Regions from separate parts of the Homo sapiens genome. Here regions 2 and 3 are each reported to be linked to region 1. Evidence: microRNA targets listed by miRTarBase, many of them from high-throughput screens and not tested one by one. Region 1 holds a microRNA gene; each other region holds the end of a gene's coding sequence.
Evidence for each region. The annotated mature microRNA hsa-miR-6887-5p reads UGGGGGGACAGAUGGAGAGGACA and lies in region 1 at 2,570-2,592, shown strand. An mRNA with a match to its seed (bases 2 to 7 or 8) in the 3' UTR can be bound and repressed. Matches are read on the target gene's strand: a 7mer-m8 pairs with bases 2 to 8, a 7mer-A1 pairs with bases 2 to 7 and ends in A, and an 8mer does both.

Region 1 (4,148 bases):
TTCTTTTCTTTTTTTTTTTTCGGAGACAGAGTCTCGCTCTGTTGCCCAGGCTGGAGTGCAGTGGCATGATCTCGGCTCACTGCAACCTCCACCTCCCAGGTTCAAGCGACTCTCCTGCCTCAGCCTCCCAAGTAGCTGGCATTACAGGCGTGTGCTGCCATGCCTGGCTAACTTTTGTATTTTTAGAAGAGACAAGGTTTCACCATATTGGCCAGGCTGGTCTCGAACTCCTGACCTCAAGTGATCCTCCTGCCTCGGCCTTCCAAAGTTTTGGGATTACAGGCCTAAGCCACTGTGCCCAGCCCGCTTTTTACTTTTTCACTGCAGCCTTGACCTCCCAGGCTCAAGAGATCCTTCCACGTCAGCCTCCCAAAGCTCTGGGATTACAGGCACACTTTTTGTCCATTACATAGGGCAAGACCAGTATTCCCTGCAGGGTAGTGATCTAAAATTACATTTTCAATAAAGTCTATTTAAGTGTATAATAGTGAGTCATTTTCAATGATGTGCAAACACCAGACCAGGTGGGTGTGGACATGGTGGAAGCGGGAGGATGGGCTTTGAGCATGATTGGACTTGGGGAAACAGGAATCTGGGAACTGAAACCATCTGTCGTCTTGACCAGAAAAGTCCCCCGCTGCTGCAGGAGGCATGGATTAACCACGTGTCTGGAAACATGAGACCAAATAGTGGCTAAAAACCTCCTAGATTAGAACCCATTTCAGGTGGCAGAATGCTGGCGTGACTCGGAGGTGTGGGGCTGAGTGGGCGAGTCCACATTTCCTCGTTGGGATATGAGGGGATGAGGTGGCTGCTCAGTGACAGGACCCCTGTCCCGCAGGAGACCCTTTCCCAAGGCCCCTGAAACTCCCCAGGCCCTGCCCAAAGGCTTGGCTGAGGCCGGCATCACCATCTCCCCTCCTTCCCCTCTTCTCCCACTAGGCTTTCCTGTCCTGGACGCCAATGACCTAGAAGGTGAGTCAGACTGGACTCTCACCCGTCACACCCCCAAATTCTCCCCTGGGTGGGGAAGGCCTGCATCCTGGCTGTAATCCTGGATTCATGATCTTTTTTCTTTCCTTGCAGATAAAAACAGTCCTTTCTACTATGGTGAGAGCCCGTGCCCCCTTTCCCCTCCCCACAACCCCACATACTGCTTGGTGCCAAGGGTTCCCATACAGGGTTGGGGCCTGACGTGAGCATCACAGGACAAAGATACGAAGGGACTAGGATGGGGTTACTGAATATGCCACACAGTGGATTAAAGGAACTAGAGGCAGCAACCTGGCCTTTGGGAAGGTTCTATTCCAGCAAGATAGACACACGCAGGAGGTGAGGACAGTTTGCAAGAAGCCATTGGTTGGTTCAGATCAACTGCTGGGAGAAGTGTTGACTTGAGAAAACTTCCTGGAGGTGGTGAGCTATTGGATCAAAACCCTCATCTGGCCTCCAGGTTCCAATGACCTGCTCCCTACTCCCCGCTCTGCCCTCACCTCTCCACGCTCCTCATTCCTTCTGCTCCAAGCCTCTCAGACACAGCAGACATACTGCCAGCCTCAGACCTCTGCACCTGCTGGTTCCTCTGCCTGGAACACTTCCTTCCACAGAACCACATGGCTCCCTCCCTTCCCTCTGCTCAAATGCAGCCCCCTGAGAGGCCTTCCCTGACAACTCCCTCTAAAAGAGCTGCCATCTGACTTTTTTTTTGTTTTAGAGACAGCGTCTCACACTGTTGCCCAAGCTGGAGTGCTGTGGTGTAATCATAGCTCACTGCAGCCTCAAACTCCTGGTCTCAAGCGATCCTCCTGCCTCAGCCTCCTGAATAGCTGGGACTGCAGGCATACACCACCATGCCTGGCTAATTTTTGTATACTTTGTAGAGATGGGTTCTCACTATGTTGCTCAAGCTGGTCTAGAACTCCTGAACTCCTGAAGTCCCAAAGCACTGGGATTATATTAGGTTGGTTCAAAAGTAATTGTGGTTTTTGCAACTGCTTTTAATGGCAAAAATGCAATTTTTTTTTTTTGAGGCAGAATTTTGCTCTTTCACCCAGAGTGTGACTGGCTGGAGTGCAATGGTGCAATCTTGGCTCACTGCAACCTCTGCCTCCCGGGTTCAAATGATTCTCCAGCCTCAGCCTGCTGAGTAGCTGGGATTACAGGCGCCTACCACCATGCCTGGCTAATTTTTGTATTTTTAGTAAAGACGGGGTTTCACCATGTTGGCCAGGCTGGTCTGGAACTCCTGACCTCAGGTGATCCGCCCACCTTGGCCTCCCAAAGTGCTGGGATATCAGGCGTGAGCCACCATGTCTAGCCAAAAACGCAATCACTTTTGCTCCAACCTAATAGGTGTCAGCCACTATGCCCAGCCCGCCCTCTGACTTTCCATCTCCCACCCCACTTATTTTTCTTCAAACCACTTATCTCTGCCTGACCCTGCACGACAGATCGTGTTTGCTGGTGTGTGAACCAGAATGTGAGCACCTGGGATTTTGTCTGTTTTCTTATGGCGGTGTCCCCAGCACCCTGTGCATCCTAGGTGCTCCATATATATTTGTCAAGAGAATGGGGGGACAGATGGAGAGGACACAGGCTGGCACTGAGGTCCCCTCCACTTTCCTCCTAGACTGGCACAGCCTCCAGGTTGGCGGGCTCATCTGCGCTGGGGTTCTGTGCGCCATGGGCATCATCATCGTCATGAGTGAGTGGAGGAGCTCGGGGGAGCAGGCGGGCCGGGGCTGGGGCTCCCCTCCCCTGACCACTCAGCTCTCCCCAACAGGTGCAAAATGCAAATGCAAGTTTGGCCAGAAGTCCGGGTAAGATACTGTTCCGGCATGCCCGCCTCAGGCTGACTGGACGCTTTTCAGGGTGAAAGGGCTAACTCTCCCAGCAGGAGAGGCCTCGGGGCTCTGCCCTTTAGAGTTCCTGCCGCTAAGATTTCCAGGTTTATTGTTTCTAGCTGGTAATCCCCAGGGGGCCCCAAATCCTGAAATGCTTTGGCCCCTGGGATTGCACAACCCCCCAAATGGAAAGGCAGCCAGGAAGACATGTCTGGGCAGGCTAAGAACCCTCTATCCGGAGGGAGAGGGCAAATGGGGGCGGACACCAATCTCACCACTTTTGTCTCCTTAGTCACCATCCAGGGGAGACTCCACCTCTCATCACCCCAGGTAAGATGGGGCAGCATGGGGCTCAGGGGAACACGGAAGTGGTGTGTGTGTGTGTGTGTATGTGTGTGTTTGCACACTGGAAAGAAAAGAACTCAATCCACCCTCACAAACGGACCCCATCACTTCCCGCAGGCTCAGCCCAAAGCTGATGAGGACAGACCAGCTGAAATTGGGTGGAGGACCGTTCTCTGTCCCCAGGTCCTGTCTCTGCACAGAAACTTGAACTCCAGGATGGAATTCTTCCTCCTCTGCTGGGACTCCTTTGCATGGCAGGGCCTCATCTCACCTCTCGCAAGAGGGTCTCTTTGTTCAATTTTTTTTAATCTAAAATGATTGTGCCTCTGCCCAAGCAGCCTGGAGACTTCCTATGTGTGCATTGGGGTGGGGCTTGGGGCACCATGAGAAGGTTGGCGTGCCCTGGAGGCTGACACAGAGGCTGGCACTGAGCCTGCTTGTTGGGAAAAGCCCACAGGCCTGTTCCCTTGTGGCTTGGGACATGGCACAGGCCCGCCCTCTGCCTCCTCAGCCATGGGAACCTCATATGCAATTTGGGATTTACTAGTAGCCAAAAGGAATGAAAGAGAGCTCTAACCAGATGGAACACTGGAACATTCCAGTGGACCCTGGACCATTCCAGGAAAACTGGGACATAGGATCGTCCCGCTATGATGGAAGTGTTCAGACAGTTTATAATAGTAAGCCCCTGTGACCCTCTCACTTACCCCGAGACCTCACTTTATTACAAGATCTTTCCAAATACCCAAATGTCCCTGCAAGCCCGTTAAATAATTCCCTATGCTACCCTTAATAACATACAATGACCACATAGTGTGAGAACTTCCAACAAGCCTCAAAGTCCCTTGAGACTCCCCAATACCTAATAAGGCATGCGAAATGTTCTCATGAACTACCCCACAACACGCCTAAAACTCAAAACACCCAAAAATATCTCCTCCAATGTCCTGAAACATGAAC
Region 2 (4,000 bases), not on the chromosome of region 1:
GGCCTCCCTAGTGGCAGCGAGCACTGGTGTTCGAGCCCTGCCCTGCCTTATTACAGGTATAGAAGCCTACAGCACCCCAGATCCTGTGGTGGGTAGAAAGCAGCAGGATCAATAAACTTAATTTTACTAGGATTCAGTAAAGGGTACAAAAGACAGGACTGTGCTTTCTACCCCCCAGGCTGCTCCTCATTTTTCCCTCCTCAATCTCTCTCAAACCCCAGTTCATCATTTTTTCTTCCTCCACAGGATACCCCATTCTGAGGAACAAAATTGAATTTAAGCGGCCAGGGAAGGCTGCTAACAAGGACAACTGGAATAAATTCCTTATGGCCATCAAGGTTAGAGAGGAGGACTTGGAGAATGAAGGCAGAGAGGGCAGCACTAAAAAAAGAAAAAAAAACAAGTCTGGGTGCAGTGGCTCATACCTTTAATCCCAGCACTTTGGGAGGCCAAGGTGGGCGGATCACCTGAGGTCAGGAGTTTGAGACCAGCCTGGCCAACATGGTTAAAACCTCGTCTCTACTAAAAATACAAAAGTTAGCCGGGTCTGGTGGCGTGCACCTGTAATCCCAGCTACTCAGGAGGCTGAGGCAGGAGAATCGCTTAAACCCGAGAGGCAGAGGTTGCAGTGAGCTGAGATTGTGCCACTGCACTCCAGCCTGGGCGACAAAGCAAGACTTTGTCTCAAAACAAACAAAAAACCCACATACACACTAGAAAGATGGGTGGGATTACAGGAAGGCAGATGCAGACCCTGAAGCCTGCGATGGAGCTGATTTTGTATTTCCAGCATTAACAAGTTCCTCTCATGTTCTTCCATTTGCTCACAGACCTCCCACAGCCCAGTGTGCCAGGACGTGCTGAAATTCATCAGTCAGTGGTGTGGAGGGCTCCCCAGCACCAGCTTTTCCTTTCAGTAGTTGGTAGAGCTGAGGAAGAGTTAGGGCCTCTCCCTCATTAAAGTTTTATAAATAATTGAGACCACTGTATTCTTTGATCAAAGTCATTCCCAACACCACACAGTGCCTTTTCCCCAAAAGGAATCATAATCAAGTAGAAGAAAAGAGAAGTTACTTTATTACAATTTGTTATCTCATCCCGAGGTCAGGGCCCCTTGCTTAGTGGGAAAAAAAACCCTTTAGGACTGAGTCTCGGAACAGCACCTGCTGGACAGAGGGGAGAACCAACCCAGGTCAGAGGGGAAAGCAGCATGGCAAGACCTAGACCCAGTTCTAAGAGCACTTCCTTGTCCCCGCTCTTACCCGGGCCACCACCTTCAAGGCCCATTACCTGTCCTAAACCCAACTTCTCTGTGATGCCCGGATTTCTTGATTTTGATCCAGTAGCTGCTCATTTTCCTGCCTTTTACATTTAGGAGATTCAAGCTCTGTCATTTCCTCTAGCTGCAGAAGAAGATAGAGTTAGACACCCTCGCCCTGAATGATAGGTCAGCATCTTTTTTTTGTTTTGTTTTTTGTGACGGAGCCTCACTCTGTTGCCCAGGCTGGAGTGCAGTGGCGTGATCTCGGTTCACTGCAACCTCCGCCTTCCGGGTTCAAGCGATTCTCCTGCCTCAGCCTTCCAAGTAGCTGGGATTACAGGCGCCCACCACCCCACCTAATTTTTTGTATTTTTAGTAGAGACGAGGTTTCACCATGTTGTCCAAGCTGGTCTCAAACTCCTGACCTCAAGTGATCCGCCTGCCTCAGCCTCCCAAAGTGCTGGGATTACAGGTGTGAGCCTCCGCACCCGGCCGGTCAGCATCTTTTCAACACAGCCAGTCTCTGTGGAATGAACCCTTCCTGTTTGCCTTCCTTACCTGCCCCTGAAGTCCGTCCTTCCTGCAGGGCCCAACTCCACGTAGAGTGAGTGCAGCCACACAGCAGTAACCAGATAGAGCAGCCTCCCCTGCAGACATGAGCAAAGAAGGGATCCAGAGAGCCAAGGCTGTATCCTGAAAAGCAAGAAGGATGGGGAGTAGGAGGGAGTAGGGCAAGTGCAGCAAATAGGGGAAATTAAAAGGGCAGGACCAAGGCTTTGTAGACCACAAGAAGGAAGAGAATGTGCTCACATAGATTCTTGTGGGGTCAAAGGGGCAGTCAGTATGTCCCGGCCCCTCATCCAGTGGTACCAGAGGATCCAGCAGTCCTGGGTGGCAGTCAGCAATAAGGCGGCGGCCACCGTTGGCCACAGTGAGTGACACAGCAAGAAGGAGGCCCAGGGAGCAGGCAACGGACAAGAGCAGGTTCACCAGAGCTAGTGCCAGCAGGACCCAGTGCTGGCAGGGACAGGAGATCAGGGTGAGCAGCCTGGGCCTGGCTAACTCTCCCAGTGACTAGACACCCAGTTTCTCTGAGGCTCCTCCAATCTATTGAAAGACCAAGCTCAGTCAGCCCCCATTTCCCTGACTCAAGCCTACTCGTTAAAAGCTCCAGGGAAGTCCCTCTCACCAGTGGAGGGCGAAGAAGGTTCCTGGACGCCAGGAGGGCCACAAGTCCCACGGAAACGCTCTGTGGAAGACACAAAGCCTTTGGCCTGCTGGGCTCTCCGGGAGCCCGGCCCCCGCCCGGGTCGCCTGCCGCGCTCACCAGCAGCCCCGAGCCGACAGAGATGACATTGGCTACGGTGTACTCCGGCGTGACAGCGCCGCGGGGATTGGCCACGTGCCGCAGGACGGTGCCATGCAGCACGGCCCCCAGCAGCAGGTTCACGTGGCCCACCAAGATCAGCGCGAGGCCCACACGCATCAGCCGCCTGGGCCCCCGGGCGGCGTCTGCAAAGCACGGGGGAGGGCAGGGTTGAGTCGGGCGGGGAGGGGAGAGGCGGCTCGCGGCGGGTTAACCGCGGGCAGTAGGACGGGGCAAGGGTAGCCCCAGGGTAAGGAGACGAGACGCCAGGGCCCGGAAGTTACCGAAAGCGCAGAGACTGCAGCGCCTCATCCCGTCCGCCGCGCCAGCCGCAGGGCCGCTGTACCTGGGCCCGGCCCCGCCCCAACCTGGGCCCCGCCTCCGTCCCGGGTCCCCCTCCCACCTGGGCCCCGCCTCCGCCCCGGGCCCGCTCCCCCTGGCGGGAAAGGCGCGAACACACGACGCTTTTAGCAAAAAGTAGACTTTTATTACAGCAGCAACTGAGGCGAATCGAATGGCCCCCCAGGGCCACCACTGCAGCACCACCTTTCTCTCCCGCCCCGGCCGCCCCAGCGGGATTGTAGAATTCGGCTCCCCTAGTGCCCGTGGGCCTCCTTTCCACACAGGCTGGGCGGGAGCCGGCAGATCAGCGACTAGCCCCCAACTAGAAGGCGGCTGCTGAGAAGGCCCAGGCCCACGTCTGTGCAAAACAAGTAAACAAAGTGCAGAGGGGAGGAAGAGAGGGGAGGGGAAAGGATGATGCTCAGAACCAGGGAGCCCCCCCAGCCCTCCTGAATAATAAAGGAGGGAAGGGGCTTCACAGGGTAATACTGACTGGGGGGAAGGGACAGGAGGGCTGCAGCACGTCCAGGGACAGCCACAGCGCAGATCAGGGCCTGGCCCGAGTGAGCTCTAAGAGGAGACGGTGACAGCGGCTGAGTTGAGGGTACTGTTCCTGGCAAAATTGAACTTGTTCAAGGTCTCTTCTAGCAGAGAAGTCAACCGGCTCTGGTCAGCCTGGGGGAGAAGAGCTCAGTAAGATGGGGGCTGAGAGAAGAGAAGGCATGGGGGCAGCCAGGGCAGATGAAGGCAGAAACCTCACCTCACTAATGAAGCCCAGCTGCACCAGCTCAGCCGCCAACTCGGGGATATTCTCATCTGACAAAGAAACAGGAGGGGGTGAGTACAGTACGGGACTGAGGGACCTGGGGCCCTTCAGACAGCCCCACTAGGGCTAAACTGTCAGTCAGATCCACCCACTGCTTTAGGGTCTAAGATAGTCATTCTATGTGAGTCAATGTGTTACTGCCTTGTCACCTCCCCCACCCCTGAATATGTCCCTAAAAGATAAGGCTCATAGACTCTCCATCCTC
Region 3 (4,000 bases), not on the chromosome of region 1:
TAGATACAAAACAGTTAATATGTAGATTTATGTTAATGGTGTTTTTCAAAAATGTATAACCACCTAGAAACTTTCAATTCGATGTTTATTTCTGGAGTAATGTCTTAGTGTGATTCTAACTCTTTGGAAACAGAAGACTTCTGAAATGACTTTTTAACATCTGTCTTTCCCCACCCTCCGACTATGAACTCCAGGCAAGCAGGGAGCGTATTTATCCTATTCATTTGCATTTCCTAGCACCATGCACTTTAATAGGCAATAAATACATATATGTTGAATTTAACCAAGGTGTACAGTATAATAAAATTCAGTGGTGGCGAATAGCTTAGTAAATCTATTGCCTTTGTTTTTTATCTTTAAGGAAAGAATCAGAGTATATATGAACAGAGTCAAGGAAATAACAGACAAGAAAAAGGCTGGCAAGCTGGACAGAGGTGCAGCTTCAAGATTTGTAAAAAATGCCCTCTGGGAACCAAAATCGAAAAATGCATCAAAAGTTGCCAATAAAGGAAAAAGTAAAAGTTAACTTTTTGGTTTTGATGTACACATATTCAAAAAGTACATCTTCCCCCCCCCCCCCCCCCCCGCAAAATAATTCTGTGGCAGGGCAAGGTTTAAATGTGTTTCTTATTAATATGTAAATTCACAGTAAATATGTAAAGCTAAATACTTTCCTCTCCAAAGATCATTATCTTTATTGATTAGCACTGAGGATTTTAACATTGTGATATATTATATATTTATAATTTACCATCTCTTGATGAGACTCTTATTTCTTTATATAGGTCAGTCTTGCAAGTACCATTTTATAAGCAGCTGTGAAATTTAAGTGAAATGTTCTTTGTAAACATTTGTACTATTTTAAATGAATAATGACCTTATGAAGTATGCTATCTGTAGGCTGAAATTATAGGTACATCTGTTTTCACTATATGATATTAAGAAAGCGTGAAATGACTTAAATGTTCATTTTTTTCTGTATAGATACTTTATCATGTTTTCATGATTTTAGGAATTACTGCTTTGTTGATATTCAAAGTGTGAAACTAAAACTTTATGGTTGTACTTTAATTCTTGGCATGTTGCCTCTATGTCCCATTTAAAATAAAATACATTCTCATTAACTTTAGATGGGAAATAAGGTTGTATGTTGATGGATGAATTTTGGCATGATGACTGTACTCTCAATAAAGGCTGAAAATGTTGTATAACTGACCTGTGTATTTTTATCTTTTGAGTAAATTTGCCTTCCAAATTAGGAAGATAGGTTTTAGAAGTCATCACAAATAGAGAAATTCTTGAGTTTTTGTTCCTGATGCATGGTGTCCACAGTTCTTTTCATCTCATTTTTTTTCAGATTTTTTTTATTTCATGTTTTTGAGGCTGTATCAAGTACATACAAGTGTTTTGGAACAACTTCTTAAGTTACCTAATGCCACTTAAGCAGATGAGAAGTCCAAAGGAGATTACACTGTGTTTGTATTGTGGTTTATTTTTCTGGAATATTAGTTACAGAGAGTACTACATAGTAAACCTTTTTTTAAATGTCTAAGCCCATGAATTTTAATTATATGCCCTTAATGCTTTCAGTGTTTGAATCCATATCATTATGTGTAGGAATGCCAAGTATAGTAAAGTACTTTAATTTTTGAAAAAGGAGTTGTTAAAATTTTCTGTGTGATTAATTCTCCATAAGTAACCTTGAATAAATGGATTTCTTGATTTATGATAGCAGATATTGGAAATGGTCTTAAAATGTAATGGATTTTGTAAAGCATGTTGAACTCTTTCTATGACACATGAAGAGGAAGTCACTGATAGACGCAGAAGGTCTTTTCTGTCTCTGATGTCAGTTTTTGAAGTGGAAGAACATTAGTGAACATTTATAGTTATTTTACTCCTTTTTTTGCCTTTGTCTCCAAATTTCTAGCTATTTTTAAAAATAACCTCTTCATGAGAGAAATGTGTTACTGTTAAGATCAAGTGTAGTGTACCTGTCTTTGTGTTATTTATTGCAAAGAAATTTATTTGGATTTCTGTATATTTTCTAATTTCATAAAAGAAAAACAGCTTAAATGAAAAATGTTATACAATTGCAGAAAATCATTATTGGTTTTAGCTAAGTTATTGGTTTATGAAAGTGCACCTCTACGTTCTGTTAAATTGTGTAACTTTTAAGTGAGTAATTCTTTCATTATTAGGTAGAAATAAAAGTTTGAGTATATTCCATTTTATTATGTATAATTTTAAATACTTAGCACGTAATAAGGAGCTGAATGGCTGTAGTGCATTGGGTTGCTTATTTGCTTGTTGTTTGTTTATTCTTTTGACAAATATACTTAATGACATTTATATTGCCAGATACAGTGCTAGGTGCAACGTTCCAAAGACGATAACTACGGCCTTTATCCTATCTTTATAAGGTGTTAAGAAAAAAATAGTCTTTTTATTCAATTCAGTTTCTCAGAGTTATGGGAAAATTTATGACAAATTGTGCTCATTAACCTTATTCAGAACCATAAAGGGTGATGTGTGTGGTTGATCTATTTGACTATGGTGCAGTTCTTGTTAAAATAGTTTGTTCCACATGATAGTCTGCTCTAAGTTTAGATGTTAATTACATCTTTTATTAATCTCTTTGGGAATTAACAAGTTGGAGAAGTTGCATCTATAGATATTTTTAAGATTAGAATTATAGTCTATTAATCTTGTACTAAATAATGAGATCTTGCATTTTAATATTATTTTAAGTACAAATTTTTTCTTGTTCATAGTTGTAAGGTGGGAAATCCTTTTAGTAAAACAGAATATGTTGAGTGAAAAATTGAAGCTTGAATTATGTTACATTCCTGGAATTAGGAAGTTATGTCAGGTTGATTAGTTTTAAGATACCCTGTAGATTAAAAAATCCTTCTACTTAGCAATTAGAAATGGATTGGCATTATTTCTAAATAAGGTATTTAAAATTGACCAGAAGTGTAGGAAAGACTTCAAAAATGGACAGCGTATTGAATGTAAATACTTTTTTCTTAAGTAGGTCACTGGAGAAAAAGATACTTTAGGAATCACTCAGTTTATCATACAGTTAAATTATAATTTTATTCAATAAGTTACCAGAAATTCTGGCTTTGCAAAGTGACATTAACTAAGAAAGATGTGAACAGTGACTCAGCCTCATGTAATAGCTAAATTTGGTATCTAAAGGGAAGAAAAAGCACTGATGTCTCATTTTCTCCCTTCATAGCATAGTTAGAAAACCTGCTCAGATAAATTCAGTGGCTCTTTTCCTGAATGATCTTGGTAGCAACGTATTTTATATCAATGTGACGTGAACATAATTTACAAATATAAACATCTATCTTTCCCTATATTCTGATCTAAAACTCTCCAGTTTTGGAAATACAAGCCATATTTTGTTCATATATTAGCATTTTATAGTTGTCATTAACAACTATGTTGGCAGAAAGTATACAGGATTTTATAATGGAATTCTGTAGATTTGTTTCATTTGAATAATTTGCTATTATATTACCTGTTAGCGGGCTTTCAAGAAAATGATTTGAATGTTTTTTGGTTTGCATATTCATTTTCCTATCAAAGTGGGTGTACAGCCATAGACTACTCTTTAGAATAGCCACCCTCTGACTTGATGTGCCTTTTTAAAGTGCTTATTTATGGCATAACTTTTTATTATTCCCTCAAGAAGTCTGAGATTATGGCATAATTTTTAACACAGCCAGAAAGATTAGTAAAGTGTTCAGAAAAGAGAGAGCTATAGTGATAGCTATTGGCAATTGAGGTTTAATTTTTAACTTTATATCTCCCAACTCCCTGCCCAGCTAGAAACCTAAAGCCACCAGCTCTGTGTTAGTCATCTGTTCTTAAAAGGTTGAAACGAGATGCTGGTTTTTACTCCCTCTCCCCACAATTAGCCTTGAAGTTTAGCAAATCTATCATAGCAGAATAACTGTATGCAAGATGTCAGTTTTGTAAAGTGATA

Region 2: miRTarBase lists NRBP1 as a target of hsa-miR-6887-5p. Seed matches in the 3' UTR shown: 8mer at 3,463-3,470.
Region 3: the mRNA of C1D is a reported target of hsa-miR-6887-5p. Seed matches in the 3' UTR shown: 7mer-m8 at 567-573.

What each region holds. Positions count from the first base shown.
Region 1 is chr19:35,120,136-35,124,283 of GRCh38, forward strand. MIR6887 (microRNA 6887) reads left to right here and starts at 2,565; the gene lies at 2,565-2,629. FXYD3 (FXYD domain containing ion transport regulator 3) reads left to right here. Exons shown (of 9, transcript NM_005971.4): 4 at 943-975; 5 at 1,087-1,110; 6 at 2,630-2,704; 7 at 2,783-2,819; 8 at 3,136-3,173; 9 at 3,306-4,148. The coding sequence ends at 3,322. RefSeq lists enhancers at 2,122-3,011, 3,012-3,899.
Region 2 is chr2:27,441,352-27,445,351 of GRCh38, reverse strand. It overlaps NRBP1 (nuclear receptor binding protein 1), which reads right to left. Exons shown (of 18, transcript NM_013392.4): 17 at 3,730-3,785; 18 at 3,093-3,644. The coding sequence ends at 3,540. It overlaps KRTCAP3 (keratinocyte associated protein 3), which reads right to left and starts at 2,971. Exons shown (of 7, transcript NM_173853.4): 1 at 2,912-2,971; 2 at 2,589-2,773; 3 at 2,451-2,510; 4 at 2,072-2,278; 5 at 1,820-1,954; 6 at 1,291-1,403; 7 at 1,055-1,166. The coding sequence starts at 2,939. The coding sequence ends at 1,296. IFT172 (intraflagellar transport 172) reads left to right here. Exons shown (of 48, transcript NM_015662.3): 46 at 1-56; 47 at 247-338; 48 at 831-975. The coding sequence ends at 920. RefSeq lists an enhancer at 2,294-2,836.
Region 3 is chr2:68,039,415-68,043,414 of GRCh38, reverse strand. C1D (C1D nuclear receptor corepressor) reads left to right here. Exons shown (of 5, transcript NM_173177.3): 5 at 362-2,285. The coding sequence ends at 526. Among named protein-coding and RNA genes, the nearest start is that of C1D, 22 kb to the left of the region's middle.